Regions from separate parts of the Homo sapiens genome. Here region 1 is linked to region 2. The links come from fine-mapping of genetic effects on gene expression. Tissue or cell type: whole blood. Region 2 holds a variant in brackets; the other region holds the start of a gene. All regions are shown on one strand. Distances are between the middles of the regions.

Region 1 (7,866 bases), 41 kb before region 2:
CAGTCTCAGGGGATTCAGGGACCCCACCAGAGCCCATCCACAGACACCAGGTTAAAAGCCCTGGACAGCATTTACAACTCCTTTGAAAGAAGAAAAGTCTTTCTCTAGAGCCCTCTTTAAAGTGCAAATGGCCCTGGGAGGTTCGAAATGATGAGCTGGCCGGCATGAAAGAATTTTCTCCAGTAGATGCAAGAGATAACCTGAGGAGCTTTAGTGGCGGGGGTGGGGGAAGGAGAGCCTGGGGGAGGGGAGGCTCCAGGCAGCTCACAATTTTTCCTAGAACTGGAAAGGGAATGTATTGGGCCAAGAGGGCTAATCACTCACCTTTGCAGAGTGTTTACAAGAACCTTATGAATTAAGTGCTATCAACATTCCCATTTTACAGATGAGGAAACCAAGATGGTGGAGATAAAATGACTTATGCTTCTCAACTAATGGCAGAGCCAGAAGTGAATCCAGGCTGGAGTGAAGTGGCTCCAGTGCTCAAATGATCCTCCTACCTCAGCCTCCAGAGTAGCTGGGACTACAGGCATGCACTGCCATGTCCAGCTAATTCAAAATAATATTTGTTGGGGAGATGGGGTTTCACCATGTTGCCCAGACTGGTCTCAAACTCCTGGGCTCAAGTAATCTTCTCACCTCCCAACTAGCCTCCCAAAGTGCTGCGATTACAGTTGTGAGCCACCAGGCCTGCTTAGGTATCCCTGTTTGATACAAGAGAAAACAGAGGGCAGGCACAGTGGCTCACACCTGTAATCCCAGCACTTTGGGAGGCTGAGGTAGGTGGATCACTTGAGGTCAGGAGTTTGAGACCAGCCTGGCCAACATGGCGAAATCCCGTCTCTACTAAAATACAAAAATTAGCCAGACATGGTGACGTGTGTCTGTAATCACAGCTACTCAGGAGGCTGAGGCACAAGAATCTCTTGAACCTGGGAGGCAGAGAGTGCAGTGAGCCGAGATCGCGCCATTGCACTCCAGCCGGGGCAACAGAGCAAGACCTTGTCACTAAATAAATAAATAGGAAACAGAGAAGCAATTCAGTGTGTTGCGAAAGTCACACAGCACCTGTCTTCCACAAGGAGCCCCTCTGTGTTCCCGCCTCACCCTGGACACCTGATCTACTGTCTTTGGAGCTTGGAGAAGGACTTGCCGAGAAGTCTGAAGAATGCATCAGGCCTGACCTGACTTTGCTGCCCCTAATTGTTTTCTAAAATCCTTTTTATTGAATTATCAGAGTGTAATGGAAGAGTCGATGAGAGTCGCTGCAGAGTTACGAGGCCAAGGCTTGCTGGGTAGAAGAAAGTAAAGCCCTAAAGGCTCCCAGGGCCCAGCGATGGTATAAAATATGTATTTTTACATAACTGAGAGGAAAAAAATAAGCAGACAGTACAGCCCCATGGGGGAAACGCCTCTTTCTGTATTTCCATTATCTTGTTCAAGGCACGATCCTAGTGGGAAAGGAAATACCGGAGCCTTCTCCCTCTGAGCCTCCTGGTGGGTTAAGAGCAGAGGGAGCCAAAATACGACATCCAAAAGACCTGATTGGAAACTCATTAAAATTGAGGGGACAGGTTGTTGGGGGGGGCGGTGCTGGGCTGCCCAGAAATCGTCTGCATTTGAGAAATTACTTGATGGACTCAGAGGCACCTTTAGCTCTGGGTGAAATATTCCAAACATGGCTTTCCCCAGGAGGAAGCGAAATAGGGGCTGGGCCTTTTGAAAGAGTAACCCCTACTCCAAATATTTATTGAGCAGTTGCTATGATGAGCCAAGAACTCTGCTTAGCGATTGTTTTTGTATTAGCTCATGCCAATTCACTTATACAAAGGAGAACACTGACTTCCCCAAGGTCACAGGGCTAGTGAGTGGCTGACTCCACTTAATGCTGTGTAGTTCTAACCATGCTTGAAGGATAAAGGGAAAGGAGGTGCCCTTGTCGGGGTAGACAAGCCACCCAGACGTGGCTGGCCACAGGGAGTCAGACAGGGAAGTTGTCTAACCTAACATTTGCCTGTCTATTCTGTTTTTGTCTTTTGATGGAGGACGGCGGGTGCTGGAGGGCCACTGGCCCAGGACCTGAGACCTTTGGCCCCTATCTATTCTATTTTTGATCCTAAAATTATTTCACTGGGGACAGAATTCTCTGGAGAAGGTGATGGTGGCCATGGTGTGGCTGTGGCATTAAAAGCCCCACTCTGGGGGTCAGAAGATCCTGGGTTTTGGTCTTTGGCTTTGACATTGACCTGCCTATGTGACATTGAACAAGTTATTTGCAAATCATAGGTTTGGGTGAACTCTAAAGGTCTCTTCCAGGTCAACATCAAAAAACAGACTGAAAACTGCAGCTCCAGCTGGAAGACTGGGACCACATGAGATGAAGCTGATTGTTAGAAGAAAGGCCCTGGAATCAGAGAGGTTGGTTCCAGTCCTGCGCCACCTCTCATTGGCCTCAATCTCTCTAAGCTTCAGTTGCCCATCTATCATATGGGAATAATAATACAGCTCTTGGGTTGTTTTGAAATGAGCTTAAATGAGCTGGTCAGTGGCTGGGCACGGTGGCTCATGCCTGTAATCCCAGCACTTTGGGAGGCTGAGGCAGGTGGATCATCTGAGGACAGGAGTTCAAGACCAGCCTGGCCAACATGATGAAACCCTGTCTCTACTAAAAATACAAAAATTAGCCAGTCGTGGTGGCGCATGCCTGTAATCCCAGCTACTCAGGAGGCTGATAGAGGAGAACCGCTTGAACCCAAGAGGCGAAGGTTGCAGTGAGCCAAGAACACACCATTGCACTCCAGCCTGGGCGACAGAGCAGGACTCCGTCTCAAAAAAAAAAGAGCTGGTCAGTGTCAAATGCTTAGCACAGAGACTGGCACAGTAATCTTCAATGTCCAGCACCTATTGTTACTATTTTTTTTTTTTTTTTTTTTTTGAGACAGAGTCTTGCTCTGTCGCCCAGGCTGGAGTACAGTGGCGCGATCTCGGCTCACTGCAAGCTCCACCTCCCAGGTTCATGCCATTCTCCTGCCTCAGCCTCCCGAGTAGCTGGGACTACAGGCGCCCACCACCACGCCTGGCTAATTTTTTGTATTTTTAGTAGAGACGGGGTTTCACTGCGTTAGCCAGGATGGTCTCAATCTCCTGACCTCGTGATCTGCCCGCCTCGGCCTCCCAAAGTGCTGGGATTACAGGCGTGAGCCACCATGCCTGGCCCTATTGTTACTATTTTTACCCCTCACTTCTGTACAGAGCATTTATGGCTCAAGAAACATTTGTCATTTTAATTGTATGGGAGTCCCACAACAGCATAGGGAGACATTTCTGATCATTATTCCCATTAGGAGGGTGGAGAAACTGAGGCTTTGGGAGGTGGTCCTGACCTAGGGAATCAATTTGCTGACTCACTAACCCATGAAGCTCTACAGTTAAAAAAGACTAGATTAAAAAATGAGAACTCAGTAAAGGGGCTGAGGCAGGAGGATCGCCTGAGTTCAGAAATTTGAGATCAGCCTCGGCAACATAGTGAGATCCCCTCTCTAGAAAAATTTTTTAAAAAATTAGGCCGCTCGAGGCAGAGTGCAGTGGCTCACGCCTGTAATCCAACACTTCAGGAGGCTGAAGAGGGTGGATCACCTGAGGTCAGGAGTTCCAGACCAGCCTGGCCAACATGGTGAAACCCCGTCTGTACTAAAAATACAAAATTAGCCGGTGTGGTGGCACACGCCTGTAGTCCCAGCTACTCAATAGGCTGAGACAGGAGAGTCTCTTGAACCCGGCAGGCGGAGGTTGCAGTGAGCCGAGATCGTGCCACTGCACTCCAGCCTGGGCAAGACAGAGCGAGACTCCGTCTCAAAAAATACAAACAAAACAAACAAACAAAAAATTAGGCTGCTAGCTCAGTGGCTCATGGCTCACACCTGAAATCCTAGCACTTTGGGAGGCCAAGGCAGGAGGATCGCTTCAGCCCAGGAGTTCGAGACCAGGCTGGGCAATACAGGGAGACACAGCGCCCCCACTGCCCCTGTCCGCCCCGACTTGTCTCTCTACAAAAAGGCAAAAGAAAAAAAAATTAGCCTGGCGTGGTGGTGTGCACCTGTACTCCCAGCTACTAGAGAGGCTGGGGCCAGAGGACCGCTTGAGCCCAGGAGTTCGAGGCTGCAGTGAGCTGTGATCGCACCACTGCACTCCAGCTTGGGTGAAAGAGTGAGACCCCATCTCCAAAACGAACAAACAAAAAATCCCAAAAAACAAAAGAACTCAGCCAAGTGTAAAAGCCCTTTCTGATCCCAGGTCTTAGTGAGCCACCGGCGGGGCTGGGATTCGAACCCAGTGGAATCAGAACCGTGCAGGTCCCATAACCCACCTAGACCCTAGCAACTCCAGGCTAGAGGGTCACCGCGTCTATGCGAGGCCGGGTGGGCGGGCCGTCAGCTCCGCCCTGGGGAGGGGTCCGCGCTGCTGATTGGCTGTGGCCGGCAGGTGAACCCTCAGCCAATCAGCGGTACGGGGGGCGGTGCCTCCGGGGCTCACCTGGCTGCAGCCACGCACCCCCTCTCAGTGGCGTCGGAACTGCAAAGCACCTGTGAGCTTGCGGAAGTCAGTTCAGACTCCAGCCCGCTCCAGCCCGGCCCGACCCGACCGCACCCGGCGCCTGCCCTCGCTCGGCGTCCCCGGCCAGCCATGGGCCCTTGGAGCCGCAGCCTCTCGGCGCTGCTGCTGCTGCTGCAGGTACCCCGGATCCCCTGACTTGCGAGGGACGCATTCGGGCCGCAAGCTCCGCGCCCCAGCCCTGCGCCCCTTCCTCTCCCGTCGTCACCGCTTCCCTTCTTCCAAGAAAGTTCGGGTCCTGAGGAGCGGAGCGGCCTGGAAGCCTCGCGCGCTCCGGACCCCCCAGTGATGGGAGTGGGGGGTGGGTGGTGAGGGGCGAGCGCGGCTTTCCTGCCCCCTCCAGCGCAGACCGAGGCGGGGGCGTCTGGCCGCGGAGTCCGCGGGGTGGGCTCGCGCGGGCGGTGGGGGCGTGAAGCGGGGTGTAGGGGGTGGGGTGTGGAGAAGGGGTGCCCTGGTGCAAGTCGAGGGGGAGCCAGGAGTCGTGGGGACGATCTTCGAGGGAAGGAGAGGGGCATCCGTAGAAATAAAGGCACCTGCCATGCCAAGAAAGGTCGTAAATAGGAGTGAGGGTCCCGGGGATAAGAAAGTGAGGTCGGAGGAGGTGGGAGCGCCCCTCGCTCTGAGGAGTGGTGCATTCCCGGTCTAAGGAAAGTGGGGTACTGGAGAATAAAGACATCTCCAATAAAATGAGAAAGGAGACTGAAAGGGAACGGTGGGCTAGGTCTTGAGGGGGTGACTCGGCGGCCCCCTCCCGGGAGTTCCTGGGGGCTCGGCGGCCGTAGGTTTCGGGGTGGGGGAGGGTGACGTCGCTGCCCGCCCGTCCCGGGGCTGCGGGCTGGGGTCCTCCCCCAATCCCGACGCCGGGAGCGAGGGAGGGGCGGCGCTGTTGGTTTCGGTGAGCAGGAGGGAACCCTCCGAGTCACCCGGTTCCATCTACCTTTCCCCCACCCCAGGTCTCCTCTTGGCTCTGCCAGGAGCCGGAGCCCTGCCACCCTGGCTTTGACGCCGAGAGCTACACGTTCACGGTGCCCCGGCGCCACCTGGAGAGAGGCCGCGTCCTGGGCAGAGGTGAGGGCGCGCTGCCGGTGTCCCTGGGCGGAGTAGGGAGGGGTTGGAAAGGGGCCGAGAAATTGCACTCCCACACCCCTGGGTTGCAATGGGCAAGCTCCCTCCTTGGCTCAAACGACACCCCTTGGAATTTACGCAGATTTGGGGATCCAAACGTTTACGACTGAACACTGTGGTGGAGGGGGTAACCCTGCCTGGTTGTTGACTATGTTATAAAGAAGAGGAGGTTGAGGGCACTTACTAGAAGCCTTCGTATTTCTCTTATTGCCCTCAGCACTGTAGAGACAGTCTCTCATTTCAGACTGCAAAAACCTGGTGGGTGGGAAGGCCTGGCAGGAGTATTCCCGTTTTACAGTTGAGCAAACCGAGGCTAAGAGAGTGACGTCCACTTGCTCAGGGTCAGCAGAGCAGATATCTGAACTGGGATCTGACTCCCAGGCCCCATTAAGCACCATCTCTGGGATGACTGAAGAGCAGCCCTCTCTTGGTTACTGGGCTGTGGCTTTTGTTTACAGATATAAAAGCTTTTTTTTTTTTTTTTTTTTTTTTTTTTAAAGACAGGGTCTTGCTCTGTTGCCCAAGCTGGAGTGCAGTGGCACAATCATAGCTTACTGCAGCCTCCATCCTCTGGGCTCAAGTGATCCTTCCCATCTCAGCCTCCCTAGTAGCTGGTTATCATGGGCATGTGCCACCACACCTGGATAATTTTAACTTTTTTTTAGGCTGGGCGCAGTGGCTAACGCCTGTAATCCCAGCACTTTGGGAGGCCGAGGTGGGCGGATCACAAGGTCAGGAGTTCGAGACCAGCCTGGCCAACATGGTGAAACCCCATCTCTACTAAATAAAAATATAAAAATTAGCCGGGCATGGTGGCGTGTGCCTGTAATCCTAGCTACTCAGGAGGCTGAGGCAGGAGAATTGCTTAAACCCAGGAGGCAGAGGTTGCAGTGAGCTGAGATAGTGCCACCGCACTCCAACCTGGGTGACAGAGCAAGACTCCGTCTCAAAAAATAAATAAAAAATAAATTTTTTTTTAGAGACAGGAGTCTCTCCATGTTGCCCATGCTGGTGTTGAACTCTTGGGCTCAAAGGATCCTTCTGTCTCAGCCTCTCAAAGTGCTGGGATTGCAGGCCTGAGAGACTGTGCCTGGACCAAAACATCTTGATACAGGTACTGTTTCCCCCAAGGAATAATGATTTTTTTTTTTTTTTTTTTTTTTGAGATGGAGTTTTACTCTTGTTGCCCAGGCTGGAGTGTAATGGCGTGATCTCGGCTCACTGCCACCTCTGGCTCCCAGGTTCAAGTGATTCTCCTGCCTCAGCCTCCTGAGTAGCTGGGATTACAGGTGCCACCACCATGCCCAGCTAATTTTTTGTAGTTTTAGCAGAGAAGGGGTTTCACCATGTTGGCCAGGCTGGTCTGGATCTCCTGACCTCAGGTGACCCACCTGCCTCAATCTCCCAAAGTGCTGGGATTACAGGCATGAGCCAGCACGCCTGGCCAGGAATAATGATCTTTTTTTAAAAAAAGCATGGTAGTTCTGACTCAGGATGAAAATGCATACACCCAATGTACTTCTAGGCCTTATCGTTGTGACAATCTAGAGTTTGCTTTGTTCCACTTGACTGTTGTCCAGGGAGCAAGGGAAGGGGCTAGTTTCTCTTCTGGTTTCACTGAATCCCAAGTGCTTCCTTTATATCAAACCACTTTCTCCTCTCTCATGATTTTACTTGATTGGGTATCACAATAAGAGGCATTTTTTTTTTAAGAGAAATCACCCACAATTCCCCTGAGGGAACACCTCCACTGTGTCATTCTTCCAGTCTTTGACCACATGAATCTTTAGCAATCACGCTGTTGTCTTTACATTTTTTTTTTGAACTTTGGAAGTCATTCGAAGTTTTTTACAGAGAAACTACAGCTCGACTGATGAAGTATATTTGCTCTGTGTGCTCTAGAGCTTTCTATTGGATCAGAAGTTATCTCTAACTCCTGGGCTCAAGTGATTCACCCGCCTTGGCCTCCCAGAGTGCTGGGGATTGGATATTTTGATGTCAGTGGGCATTGAGGAGTGGCTTCTCGGGGAAGGCAAACTTGATCCAGTCTTGGAGAGCAAGGCAGGGGCTAGAAACAAGCTTGTATCTGAGCATGCGTCTGGGGTGTCCCAGTGCTAAGGCTGGTGACTT
Region 2 (7,866 bases):
GGGAGGTGGCACAGCCAAGATTTAAACTCAGCTTGAGCACTTAACCTGTGTGCCACAGGGCTCTTCCTGTTCATATCCATGAGAAACAAGTTATGTGGACAAAGATGGCCAAGACGAGAGATTGGTGGAGTATGGCCAGTAGTTAAGAATATGCAAGAATAATGTTTTATTTATTTATTTTTAAGACAGGGCCACGTTCTGTCACCTAGGCTAGAGTGCAGTGGTGCAGTCATAGCTCACTGCAGCTCAACTTCCCAGCCTCAAGCGATCTTCCCACCTCAGCCTCCCAAGTAGCTGGCAGTACAGGCACACGCCACCACATCTGGCTAATTTTAAATTTTTTGTAGAGACAGGGTCTTGCTATGTTGCCCAGGCTGGTCTTGATTCCTGGCCTCAAGCAATCCTCCTGCTTCAGCCTCCTAAAGTGCTGGAATTACAGGCATGAGCCACCGTGAATGGCCAGAAGCACAGTTTTAAAATGTTTGTTGATGGCTGGGTGCGGTCGCTCATGCCTGTAATCCTAGCACTTTGGGAGGCCGAGTCGGGCAGATTACTTGAGGTCAGGAGTTTGAGCCTGGCCCACATGGTGAAACCCCATCTCTACTAATAATACAAAAATTAGCTGGGCGTGGCGGTGGGTGCCTTTAATCCCAGCTGCTCAGGAGGCCAAGATAGGATAATTGCTTGAACCCGGGAGGCAGAGCTTGCAGTGAGCCAAGATTGCACCACTGCATTCCAGCCTGGGCGACACAGCAAGACCCTGTCTCAAATAAATAAATAAGTTTGATGATGACCAGTACAGCCTGGACCCTTTGCATTCAACGTGGTGCACTCCATCCTGGGTGACAGAGCAATACCCTGTCATAAATAAAATAAGTAAAGTTTGATGACCAGTACAGCCTGGACCCTTTGCAATGAAAGCGGATGCCTGGTGTTTAGTGCTCAAGCAGTGCTGGGGCCCTGGGCAGCAGCTGGAGGGTGGGCACTGGGGAGGACACCAGGAGGCTCAGAGCAAAGGCTACTCACCAACTGATGGGACTTTTCAATATTTCAACCATTGGTGTGGTTGTTGTCAGTCCATACTGGGTGAATCTCAGTCCTGATTTTATCTGAAATAAATCCACGTGGTTAGTTTGGTTAGTTCTCATTATAGAAGCCCCTCCCCATCCCCAAAACTTCTAATTATGGAAACTTAAATACATAAAAGTTGAGAAATAGTACAATGAAGCCAAGCATGGTGGTGCGCACCTGTGGTCCCAGCTACTCAGAAGGCTGAGGTGGGAGGAATGCTTGAGCCTGGGAGGTCCAGGGTGCAATGAGCTATGATTGCACCATTGCACTCCAGCCTGGGTGATAGGGCAAGGCCCTGTCTCAAAAAAAAAAAAAAAAGAAAAAAGAACACCCTCATTTTACAATTAACATTGTCATATTTGCCTTCTCTGTGTGTGCCTCTTAAGTGTGTGCGTCCGAGCATGCACTTTATGAGCCATTTGAAAGTACGCTGCAGGCATGTTTCACCCCTAAATACTTTAGTCTGCATCTCCTGAACCACAATGCCATTATCACAACTAAGAAAACGTATAATGTCATCTAACATCCAACTCTGATGGCAAATATTCCCAACCATGCCAAGAATGTCTTGTGTTTATTACAAACTCTCACATGCAAGTCATTTCAAACATCACCTCCCGAGATCCTTGTGTACCCAGAAGGGAACATGAGAAGAGAAGGTGGTGTTCTTGCCTTTGGTTTGCCTAAGGCCCCCTTTTTGTTCTCCCACTTTGGATTCGGTTGGATTCTAGGAGCAGTTACACATTTCTGTTTTTGTGTTTAAAAGCATGTAGGTTTCATGTAAGCTATATGCATGCACACACTAGCCACACATGGGACTCAAGTTTGTAATTTAAAAAGACATTTCCTTCCCCTATAATAAAGCATAGCTGGCATTTCTACATCTGAAGCGTCTAAGATAAAGCTGATGGTATCAGCATGTTGCTCTCCAAAGAAACAAAAGGTTATGATTTGATAGACCCTGAAATTAGACATCAAGGTCAAGAAAGTGTAAACTTAGGTGTGGTCGTTTTCCAAAGCTGTCACTCAGATGTTTAGCAAAATGTCCCCCTTTACATTTCCCCTGTCTTCCACAGGTCTCCCCCATCCACCCAAAAGGAGGAAAGTTAGGAGGGAAGATTGTCAAAAGTCCTCAAATATGGCTATTTTAGATTTCTTTTTTTCTTTTGGTGAGACAGAGTCTCAGTTTATCACCCAGACTGGAGTGCAGTGGTGCAATCTTGGCTTACTGCAACCTCTACCTCCCACCCCCAGGTTCAGGCTACTCTTGTGCCTCAGCCTCCCAAGTAGCTAGCTGGGACTGTAGGCACGCACCACCATGCCTGACTAAGTTTTGTATTTTTAGTAGAGATGGGGTTTTACCATCTTGACCAGGCTGGTCTCAAACTCCTGACTTCAAGTGATCCACCCACCTTGGCCTCCCAAAGTGTTGGGATTACAGGTGTGAGCCACCGCACCAGGCCTATTTTAGATTTCTTTTAATGTAGTAGCAGGTAACAAGCATAGTTCATATACTTTTACTATTTTTAATAATGACCAACGTTTCCTGAACATGAATAGTGGATTAAAGTGCTGAGTGGCATGCCTGGTGCACAGCAGGAGTCCAATATTAGCTATGGACAGTACCTGACATTCAGCGGATTTGAATCATTCAGACTTGAAACTGCACTATAATATTTTACTTAGTAAAATCTCATTAAAAATTTTTTTTAAATAGTATGTTTTGTAGAGACAGGGGTCTCACTATATTGCCCAGGCTAGTCTCGAGTTCCTGGGCTCAAGCTATCCTCCTACCTTGGCTTTTTCAAAGTGCTGGGATTATAGGCATGAGTTCCTGCACCTGGCATAAAGTTTCATTTTATATTGCAGCTTTTAAAGAATGGGAGTGCATCACATCTACTTTTAAAGGAAAGCTGAGCATGTTTTGAGTTATGCACAGTTTTCAGCAAAACAGCCCATGCATGAAATCCAACAGGCTTGTCAGATTAGGCTGGTCACTTTACATTATATACTTTCTCATGTAGTTCTCACGACAGTCCTGTTATTTAGAGATTGCCATTCGGCCCATCTTATAGAGAGGAAACTAAGGCTTAGAGAGGGTAAGTGACTTAACCTCAAGTATGTCTGAGTGGTGGAGCTGAAACCTCAATCTTGGTGTGGCTGACTTCAGACTTGTTACTTGTAACCACCGTGCAGTCCCAAGCTTGTGTTTGTTGCTGTTCCAAATGCAACATTGGTGCCTCTAAGCCTCATATCATGAACTGGTTCAGAGAGAGAAAGCCACAGTCCCCCCAGGTTCATTTAGTGTGTGTTCAGGTGTGTTGGCATGGTGCTTCCTTCAGTCTTTCTCAAGCCTCATAGGCAGAAAACCCTTCATGAAAGCATAGTGGTCAAGAGCCACGGGCTCTGGGGCCAGACGGCCTGTGCTTGCTCGAATTCCAGGTTCACACCAGTAACTTGTAAGTTATGTGACCTTGGGCAAGTTACTCAACCCTCATATGCCTCAGTTTTCTCATTTGTCAAATGGAGACAATAATAGTACCTAATTCATACTATTATTATGAAAATAAATGACTAATA[T/C]AAGCCTGGCATGCAGTGTGCTCTAGAGCATTAGCTGCTAATATTATCTCTGCCACCAAAGGCTTTAGCCAAGACTGCCTTCAAAAGCAGTGTTTGTGGGGTGGTAGTGTTCTAGAAAAGGTAATGTTTCCTTTTTTTTTTTTTTTTTTTTTTTGAGAAGGGGGTCTGATTCTGTCACCCAAGCTGGAGTGCAGTGGTGGTGCAACCACGGCTTATTGCAGCCTCGACCTCCCAGGCTCAAGCCATCCTCCCATCTCAGCCTCCTGAGTGGCTTGACTATAGGCATGCACCACCACACCTGGCTAATTTTTGTATTTTTAAATTTTTTATTTTTATCATTATTTTTGAGATGGGGTCTCACTCTGTTGCCCAGGCTGGAGTGCAGTGGCACAATTTCAGCTCACTGCAACCTTTGCCTCCCAGGTTCAAGCGATTCTCCTGCCTCAGCCTCCCAAGTAGCAGGGACTACAGGCGCACACCACCACGCCCAGCTAACTTTTGTATTTTTAGTAGAGATGGGGTTTTGCCATGTTGGCCAGACTGGTCTCAAACTCCTGACCTCAGGTGATCCACCTGCCTTGGCCTTCCAAAGTGCTAGGATTACAGGCATGAGCCACCATGCCTGGCCAGAAATTGGACACTTTATTTATTTATTTATTTTTGAGACGGAATCTCGCTCTGTTGCCCAGGCTGGAGTGCAGTGGTGCAATCTCAGTCCCCTGCAACCTCCACCTCCCGGGTTCAAGCAATTCTCCTGCCTTAGCTTCCCAAGTAGTTGGGGCTACAGGCACCTGCCACCATGTCCAGCTAATTTTTGTATTTTTAGTACAGACGGGGTTTCACCATATTGGCCAGGCTGGTCTCGAATTCCTGACCTTGTGATCCGCCTGCCTTGGCCTCCCAAAATGCTGGGATTACAGGTGTGAGCCACCGTGCCCGACCAATTGTACACTTTAAATTGGTGAATTTTGTGTTGTGTTAATGATATCTCAATATTTTTTGAAATGCCAACAGGGAACAAATCATCATTAGTGAAACAGCTCTTGTTCAGATTAGTAAGTAGAGCTCCAGTCCTGAGCTTTTAGTAAACAATTGTGAGCCCCAGTGATTCCACGTGGTCCTGCCCTATGTGTAGAGCCTTGGTTTGCAGCCTTCCCAGAAACAGAAATGCTTCTGGGAAACCACAGCTCCCTACCTGCTGAAGGAAATGGACACCTGAGATAAGCTGAATATATTGTGTGTGTAATCAGAAGGCAGGCAGGCAGGCCGGTTTTCCAGATGAGCCTAAGCTAATGGCTTAAAAGGGTGTTTAAAAGAGAAAGCAGTAGCCTGACTGGTCTGAACTCCTGCCCTGTCAGCAGAAACGGTGCAGTCACAATGAGAAGGGAAAGAGTATTTAACGCTGGTATGAACGGCAAGCCTCTGCCTCCTGATTTAGTTAATAAGCAGTTTTCCTATGGAATTGATTGAGGGGGAGAGAGGTTTTTCTCTTCCTGGCTCCCTTGGTGTGTGCCCTCTCATGTCAGAAGGCAGGAAGTTCTCTGGGAATTCACACCAGAGGTTTTGCCATTATTTAAGCAAATTAAGGCCTTTGGGAACAGCCAGGTGGCCTTTCAGGTTTTGTCAGGGCCAAAAAGCCCTATCACCTGCCAAGGTGTTGAGTCAACTTATTTACAGTGCTCAGAGCCAGTTCCTGTGCTGCTGAAATCCCTGAAGGCCTGCTCTAAATGGGCCTGGTCAGACATCAACACCGCCTGCCTCATCAGCACTTTTAGCCTTCCACCTGCAGTGCGGGCTTGACTGAGATGCCCCAGTGGCTTGTCCTGGGAAAACTGCTCCCATCTGTAAGCTGCCACCCTCCTTTGGTGACTTTGCCTCTCTCTGCCTCTTTACTCCCTGCACAGAGGGGCAAAGAGGCACATCCTCCAGGGAGGCAGGGCTAGGTGGAAGTTAAGGTGATGGGCTTTGGGGTCCGGCAGGCCTGAGTTCAATTCCCAGCTCTGCTGTGTGCTGTTATAGCTACGTGGCCTTGGGCAAATCCCTTACCACTGTGAGTATTGCTTTATTCACCTGTGAAATGGGAGTAACACGGTACCTACCTTCTAGGCTGTTGTGAAGATTAACTGCAATTCTGCATGGTGCTTCTGATAGGGTCAGTAACTGAGGGGTTGGCCGGGCACGATGGCTCACACCTGTAATCCCAGCACTTTGGGAGGCCGAGCAGGCAGGAGGATCACAAAGTCAAGAGATCGAGACCATCCTGGCCAACATGATGAAACCTCGTCTCTACTAAAAATACAAAAATTAATTGGGCATGGTGGCACATGCCTGTAGTCCCAGCTACTCGGGAGGCTGAGAAGAATTGCGTGAACCTGGGAGGTGGAGGTGACAGTGAGCCAAGATCACACCACTGCACTCCAGCCTGGCAACAGATGAGTGCTGGGGGTGTTGGAGGGAGGCTGGAGAATGAAAGGGAGGCAACTGAGGCCACAGTGTCTGGCTGTTTCCAATCCCCCCATCCCCAGCTGAAACCCTCTCATCTGCAGATAACTCCAAGACACTCCTTACTTCTCCCAGAATAAAAGCCCGGCTCTCTACAATGAGGCTCCAGCTACGTCTGACTTTGTCACTGACTACCCTTGTGTCACTCGCTCTACTCAGCCACCACCCTGGATTGGCTTCCAACCAAGTTGTGTTTGCTTTTCCCTCTGCCTGAAATGTCCTTCCAAAGGGGACCGTGTGGCTCCCTTCCTCCCTCCTTCCCTCCCTTCCAGCAAGTCTTAGGTCTCAGCTAAAACTGCCTTTGCTCTAAGTCACCTTCATTGCCTTTGACATGGCACACCACTGCCTCCAGCACTCCCTCCTTATCCTTCCTCCCTGTTTATTTTATTTTATTATTTTTTGTTTATTTATTTTGAGACAGAGTCTCCCTTTGTCACCCAGGTTGGAGTGCAGTGGCATGATTTTGGCTCACTGCAACCTGTACCTCCTGGGTTCAAGTGATTCTCTCCTGCCTCAGCCTCCCAAGTAGCTGGGATTACAGGTGTGCACCACCACACCTGGCTAATTTTTGTATTTTTAGTAGAGATAGGGTTTCGCCATGTTGGCCAGGCTGATTTCAAGTGATCTACCCATCTCGACCTCCCAAAGTGCTTGGGATTACGGGCTTCGGCCACCATGCCCAGCACCTGTTCTATTGTTTTCTCTACAGCGTTTACTACCTTATTGTATGTTTTTGGCTAAAGGGCCTTGGAGTCAACCCCAGGAGAACAGTGCTGATGAATCAGGAGTGGCGCTCCCATAACTTCATGCGTCTTCAAAGCTGGCTAGTACTGCACCTCATTCTCGTGATTTCATGCCCACAGTTACCTCCAGGGTGTTGGCTGAGCAGAGCAAGTGACATGAGGGTAGTTGGTGACAAAGTCAGAAGTAGCTGAGGCCTCACTGTAGAGAGCTGGGCTTTTATTCTGGGAAAAGTGAGTCTCTGGAGGGCTCTGCATAGAGCAGAGGCTTGTCATGGCCTGACCGAGGTTGTAGCAAGCTCAATGCGGCTACTGTGTAGAGAAGACGCCGTAGCAACCTGGGCCAGAATTGGGAAGATTAAGGAGCTACTGCAATGGTCCAGGAGTCCAGAGATGAATTGAGTCTGTGGGGAAAAAAGTGTCGGCTGACAAGCCGTTCTGTCTCCATGTTCTCCTCTCACCTTTTGACCACCCTGTCCCCACTCCTCAGCTGTGCTTTGTATTTTGTAATTCGCAGCACTCAAAGCACTCACACAGGAGGCCTGACATTATTTATCTGCAGGTCAGAGGGTTTGAGTTGAGGGTGGGGGTATTGGAAACAATTAGGCATTGTGGCCTCAGTTGCCTCCGCTTCATTCTCCACCCTCCTCCACACACCCGCAGCACTCATTTTAACCCCTCAGTATGTCTTTTACTTTTTCCTTCCTTTTTAGAGTTAGGGTCTCACTCTGTCATCCAGGCTGGTGTGCAATGGTGTGATCACGGCTAGTTGCAGCCTTGACCTCCTGGGCTCAAGCAATTAACTCCACCTCAGCCTGCCCAGTAATTGGGACTACAGGAGCATGCCACTACACCTGGCTAATTTTTTCTTTTTTTAGAGATGGGGTCTTGCCATGTTGCCCAGGTTGGTGTCGAACTCCTGAGCTCAAGCAATCCATCCCCCTTGGCCTCCCAAAGTGCGGGGATAACAGGC

Evidence for each region. PIP is the estimated chance that this variant, and not a neighbour inherited with it, causes the effect.
Region 1: it holds the start of CDH1, and the variant in region 2 is fine-mapped to the expression of CDH1 in whole blood (INTERVAL, PIP above 0.99).

Annotation. Positions count from the first base shown.
Region 1 is chr16:68,732,733-68,740,598 of GRCh38, forward strand. CDH1 (cadherin 1) reads left to right here and starts at 4,560. Exons shown (of 16, transcript NM_004360.5): 1 at 4,560-4,731; 2 at 5,565-5,679. The coding sequence starts at 4,684. It also overlaps a transcript of CDH3 not described here. RefSeq lists enhancers at 1-533, 3,581-3,725, a cis regulatory region at 3,653 and a silencer at 4,606-4,675.
Region 2 is chr16:68,773,753-68,781,618 of GRCh38, forward strand. All of the region lies in intron 2 of CDH1 (cadherin 1), which reads left to right. Among named protein-coding and RNA genes, the nearest start is that of CDH1, 40 kb to the left of the region's middle. RefSeq lists enhancers at 556-700, 5,382-5,985, 5,986-6,587, 6,589-6,733, 7,273-7,417 and cis regulatory regions at 628, 6,661, 7,345. The variant T/C (reference allele first, on the strand shown) is at 3,652.